Regions from separate parts of the Homo sapiens genome. Here region 2 is linked to region 1. Evidence: fine-mapped expression QTL. Tissue or cell type: iPS cells. Region 1 holds a variant in brackets; the other region holds the start of a gene. All regions are shown on one strand. Distances are between the middles of the regions.

Region 1 (2,676 bases):
GAGACCCAGCTGGGCAACACACTGAGACCCCCTCTACAAAAAATGAGCCAGGCAAGGTGCTGTGCACCCCTGTTCCCTCGGGAGCCCCAGAAAAACGATGAGCCCGTCCCCACCTCAGTCAGCACCGATGGGGACCCCAAGGCCTTGCGGGACAGGCTTCCAACACAGGCAGGAGGGCCACGCCCCAGGCGCTCAGCTGCCTCACAAGTTCTCATCAAGTAATGTGGAGGGAGATGCGTCCTGGCCAGGGCCTGGGTGAGGGTGGGGGGCAGATCAGGACCTAAGTCTGAGGAAGCTGGGGCCATCCACCCACCAGGGCCAACACTTCCCAGCTGACCTGCCTCTGACCACGACAGGAAGGTGGGGGGTACCACCTCTGTGGGGCCCCTGGCCCTCCTGCTGGGTTCCGGGCACGAGTGCAGGCCCAGGGGGCGAGCAGGAGCAACACCAAGACCGGCCCGGCGGGCAGCGGCAGGGGCTGGACCTGTGGCGCCGGGGCCTTGCTCCACACCACACACGAGGCCTCTGCCCTTCTGGGAGGAGAGAAGTGCTCACGCTACACAAGAGCCTTCCCCAGCCCTCAGCAGGACGGCCAGGTGTGAGCACAGAAGGCTCCTCCGTGGGCACCTCGGGAGTGATGGTCAGTGGGGGCCTTCCCAGGTGACTTAGGTCATTCTCATGTGGGGGTCAGACTGGAAATGACCTCCCGAGAGCATCTGTGCTGCCTGCGGGGTGACAGCCACGTCAGCTTCCCTCCTGCTCGGGGCTTCAGGGACAGCCTCTCTCTGGGGACATGAGGTTTTCCTCCTGGAGACGTGGGGCCCAGGGAGCCTGCTGGAGGGTGCCCGGGAGGGTGCCACAGTGACAGGGGAAGTGTGAGGCGTCACAGGCGACACTCGCCACACACACTGAAGCTGCACACACTGAGACTGTGCGGAGGCCAGGGGTGGCAAAGCAGGCCCCACGAGGCTGGCTGCGTGCGGGGTGCTCACCCGTGGC[C/T]GGTCCTGCGGTGCCTGCTGATCTCCTTTTCCCCCTCAATGATCCACTGCATGATTTTCTGGTTCTTCTCCGCATCCTCCGAGGCACCTGGCACCTCGGTGCTGGCGCTCTTCCCCGACTCAGCCTTCTTGGCATTTCTTTTGCACGCCACGCCCACCTTCCCACTGCAAGGGCAAGAGCTGCGAGTCGCCCTGGCCTCCGGTGGCCGAGGCTGTGCCCCTTCCTCGTCTGCGAGGCCCCCTCCTGGCATCTGTAAGGCTCCCGTGGTGCAGCCGCCGCCCGCTGTCCCCTGCCCGCTTGTCCCCCACCCGCTGTCCCCCGCCAGCTTGTCCCCCACCCGCTGTCCCCTGCCCGCTGTCCTGGTGCTGTCTGGGGGTTGGTTTCCTCTCTAAACACACAGGCAGTCACTGCTCACCCCCTGAAGACTGAGGGCCAGAGCGGGAGCCAGGGTCGGGCTGTGTCCCCTAACCTTCATCTCCCACCTGAGGTCACGGCGTGGACTCCCCTGACCCAGGGCCCAGTCCACTCCCTCCAGCAGAGGGGCCTCCTGCCTGTTGCTGGCGGTCCTGGGTTTCCTGAGTTTTATGAGGAGGTTCTGGCCTTCTGCAGGGACACAGCCTCACCCCAAGCCCCCTCCTCACTGACAGGCGCACGCTCACCTGTGGGCGAGGCCATCACTGGCGTTGGGGGCAGCGCCAACACTCTCTGAGTAGCCTCGGGACCTTGCCCCATGGCTGTGTGGTTCCAGGCCCCAGGCGAAGCTGCTCTGGGCCCTGCGGGTGGCCTCGGCCTCCACCTGCTCCTTGGGCCGGGCTGTGCTGTGGTGGACGTGGTGGTGGACGTGTCGGTGGTGGTGCAGGCCGGCCGCGTCCAGCTTCGCCCCTGACTTGGGTACGTGCTTCCCGTGCCCCGAGGCGGCACCCCCCAGTGCCACTGGCATCTTGGCCACGTGCCCACTGTCCGGGGAGCGATGGCCAGGCCCAGGCGACTGGCGGCCAGGTGTCCTCAGCACACGCTGTACGTGCTCGTCCAGGATGCTCTCAGGGTTCTCCTCGTGTGCATCCCGGAGCCCGGCACAGCCCATGTCCACACAGCGGGGCGGGAAGTGGTGCCAAGCGGGGGCGGGAGGCAGCTTGTGACACGGCCCTGGGGGCCCTGACGATGGATCGCCGTCCTCACCTTCCTCCTCCTGTGTGGGGACAAGCAGCACCATCACCTCTCAGCACCAGCTGCACACTTGGGGAAAACAAAAAGCATCAGGCCTGACCCAGCAGCCCCAGCAGATGCCGTCCCAGCCCAGGGTGGCCGGGGGCCCCTCGCCACCGGTCCTGTCCCTGAGGATGGAGAGGCAGGACGGGGCATAGACAGAAGGAGCGGAGACAGCAAGGCCTCAAGGAATGCAGCGTATGTATCGGCTGTGGGCAGAGCTCTGCACAGATTTAGTTTAGTTTTATTCTTTTTTTGAGACAAGTTCTTGCTCTGTTGCCCAGGCTGGAGAACAGTGGTGTGATCTCAGCTCACTGCAGCCTCCGCCTCCTAGGCTCAAGCGATCCTCCCACCTCAGCCTCCAGAATAGCGGAGACCACAGCCGTGTGCCACCACGCCCAGCTAATTTTTTTGTACTTTGGGGACAGATGCGATTCTCACCATATTGGCCAGGCTGGTCTCGAATGCCTG
Region 2 (2,676 bases), 55 kb after region 1:
CCTTTATAAATTATCTTAGAAGGGGCCAGGCGCGGTGGCTCACGCCTGTAATCCCAACACTTTGGTAGGCCAAAGTGGGCAGATCACCTGAGGTCAGGAGTTCCAGGCCAGCCTGGTCAACATGGTGAAACCCTGTCTCTACTAAAAATACAAAAATTAGCCGGATGTGGTGGCGCATGCCTGTTATCCCAGCTACTCAGGCGGCTGAGGCAGGAAAACTGCTTGAACCCGGGAGGCGGAGGTTGCAGTGAGCCAAGATAGCGCCACTGCACTCCAGCCTGGGCTACAGTGCGAGACTCCGTCTCAAAAAAAAAAAATTATCTTAGAGGACGGTGGTCACCCCTGTAGTCCCAACACCTTGGAAGGCTGAGGCAGGTGGATCGCTTGAGGCCAAGAATTCAACACCTGCTGGGCAATATAGTGACACCCCATCTCTACAAAAAATATATATATATATATCTTATAGATGGGCTGAGAAAAATCCCCAGAGAACTGACATGTTTTTCTCTACTTTCTTCAATGCCAAGCTGAAAGTTTCACTGCTCGGGCAGTGCAGCTCTGGTTTCACGGGGGCTAAATTCCAAAGTGCGGGGCGGGGGTAGAATCTAAGAACCACACCCAAGAGAAAGACCAGTGTTTGGGCAGCAAGGCATCAACCTGGAGGGTACGGACGCCGGAGCACGCGGCTACTCAGGCCGAACCCCGACCCGGACCCGGCACGCGGCCTCGGCGAGGGCGGGCGGGAGTGTCCTCCTCCGGGACAGCCGGACTCCCGCCGACTTCTGGGCGGCGGGGAGGGCTCCAGGCCCGGCTCTCCCGGGCCCCCGCACGCGATGCGCGGCCCCTGCAGCTGCTCCGTGCCCCGAGACGCGCCCGAGGCCTCGGACCTCCAAGCGGCCACCGCGCCGCCAGTCCCGCTGCCCAGGGACACCCCGGCCCCAGCTCCCCGCGCGCCCACCCCCTCGGTCCCACGCGCGTCAGCCACCCGCGCCCCCCGCCGCTTCCGGGTCCCGCCCGCCCGGCCTACCGCGGCCTAGCCCGCCCCGGAGCCCGGCCCTACTCACCCGCGCGCGGTGGTGGCGGGACCCCGGGCCCGGCTCCCGGAGCGGCGCGGCGCGGTCCGGGCCCATGCGCTCAGCGGCAGCGCGGCGGGCGGGACCCGGCGGGGGCGCGGCCCGGGGCGGCCCCCATCTCGGCGGCTGCGGCTCGGCGGCCCGGAGGCGGACGCGGGGCAGGCCGCGGGGGCGCCGCAGGGGCCCAGCCGCCAGCTCCCACCCGCCCGCTCCGCGTGGACGCGGCTCCGGGCCGACTCCGGCCGGCTCTGGCGGCGGCAGCGGCCACGATCGCCTCCCGAGCCAGAGCCCGAGCCAGAGCGCCGAAGCCCAGGCCCGAGCGCCCCCGCCGGCGGCGTCCGGAAGTGCGGGGGCGGGGCCGGGGCGCGGGGACGAGGTGAGAGCGCGGGGCGGGGCCTCAACACGGGGCGGGGCCGGCAGCGCGGGGACGAGGTAAAGGGTGTGGGGCGGGGCTTCAGGCGCGGGGCGGGGCTGAAAGCGCGAGGATAAAGTGAGGAGCGTGGGGCGGGGCCGACAGCGAGGGGACAGGTGAGGAGCGCGGGGCGGGGCCGGGGCGTGGGCGGGGCCGGAAGCGAGAAGACGAGGTGAAGAGCTCGGGGCGGGGCCTCGGGCGTGGGGCGGGGACCAGGGAGTAAGGCGGGGCCCGCCTCGAGCAGAAGAGGTAAAGAGCGTGGGGCGGGGCCTCCGGCGCGGGGCGGGGCCGGAAGCGAGAAGACGAGTTGAGAAACATGGGCCGGGGTCTCTGCATGGCCGGGAGAGGGCGTGGTCAGTGCCTGCCGGGGGCGGGGCGTGCCGGGGGCGCGGTCGCGCCGTCTTCCCGAGGGGCGGTGCGGAAGCGGAGCCCGGGAGGCTTTGGCTTCCCAGAGAGCGGAGTGGGAGAGGCGGCGTTGCAGGTCCTTGGAATGGCCGCGGCCGTGGGGAGCACTGGGCGGACTGCGCGCCCCGAAGGGCGCACGTGGGGCGCAGCCCTTTTCTGCCGCCAGTACATCGGAGGGCAGTCAGGGGGCTGCAGGCCTCGGGGCTCCCTGCCCAGCCGGCCCTGGAGAGGAGGCCCTCGTGGGGACCGCCACGGCCTGCCCGCCGCCGTGAGGGAAGCAGGCTCCCAGGAGTGGGGTGGTCGGCAGGCAGGGATGGCCAGGGCCCTTGGAAGGTGGGGTGGGCTCCACCCTCCTGAGTCCCAAGGCAGCCTGGACTCACAGCGCCAGGGAACACGTTAGGCCCCAATATATGGTGGCTCTCACCCGGACAGGAGCCACAACCTCCAAAGAGCCCACCGGCTAGGACCCTCTGCCTTGATTTCTCCCAGGCACCATCTAGTATCAGAGAAGGGTTCTCCTTCCCTCCGCTGCCCAGGCCAGCCCGAGAGCAAGGCCATTGGAGTGTCCAGACCCCTGCACCCCTTCCCCTGGGCTGTCTCCACAGCGGCCCTGCCAAGGGGTCCAGTCCGATCCTGCCACCCTGGCTGCCCAGATCCGTGTCACTTGCCCTGCAGGCCACAGAGCATGAGGTCACAGCCCCAGGCACCCCACGGCAGAGAGGCACGGGCCCCCAGCAGCAGCCCCAGCACCAGCTCTGGCCAGCCCAACCCTGTCAGAACCAACCC

Which allele goes with the higher level. Alleles are on the strand shown, and positions count from the first base shown. SD is a standard deviation of normalised expression in the study named.
With allele T in place of C in region 1, the expression in iPS cells of the gene that starts at base 1,419 in region 2 is lower (large effect, 1.4 SD a copy in HipSci).

What was found. PIP is the estimated chance that this variant, and not a neighbour inherited with it, causes the effect.
Region 2: AXIN1 starts here. The variant in region 1 is fine-mapped to the expression of AXIN1 in iPS cells (HipSci, PIP 0.95).

The regions. Positions count from the first base shown.
Region 1 is chr16:296,064-298,739 of GRCh38, forward strand. AXIN1 (axin 1) reads right to left here. Exons shown (of 11, transcript NM_003502.4): 6 at 1,659-2,188; 7 at 993-1,163. Among named protein-coding and RNA genes, the nearest start is that of PDIA2, 14 kb to the left of the region's middle. The variant C/T (reference allele first, on the strand shown) is at 1,000.
Region 2 is chr16:351,305-353,980 of GRCh38, forward strand. AXIN1 (axin 1) reads right to left here and starts at 1,419. Exons shown (of 11, transcript NM_003502.4): 1 at 1,065-1,419. RefSeq lists silencers at 638-697, 708-777, 798-847, 1,128-1,207, 1,308-1,787 and 1 more.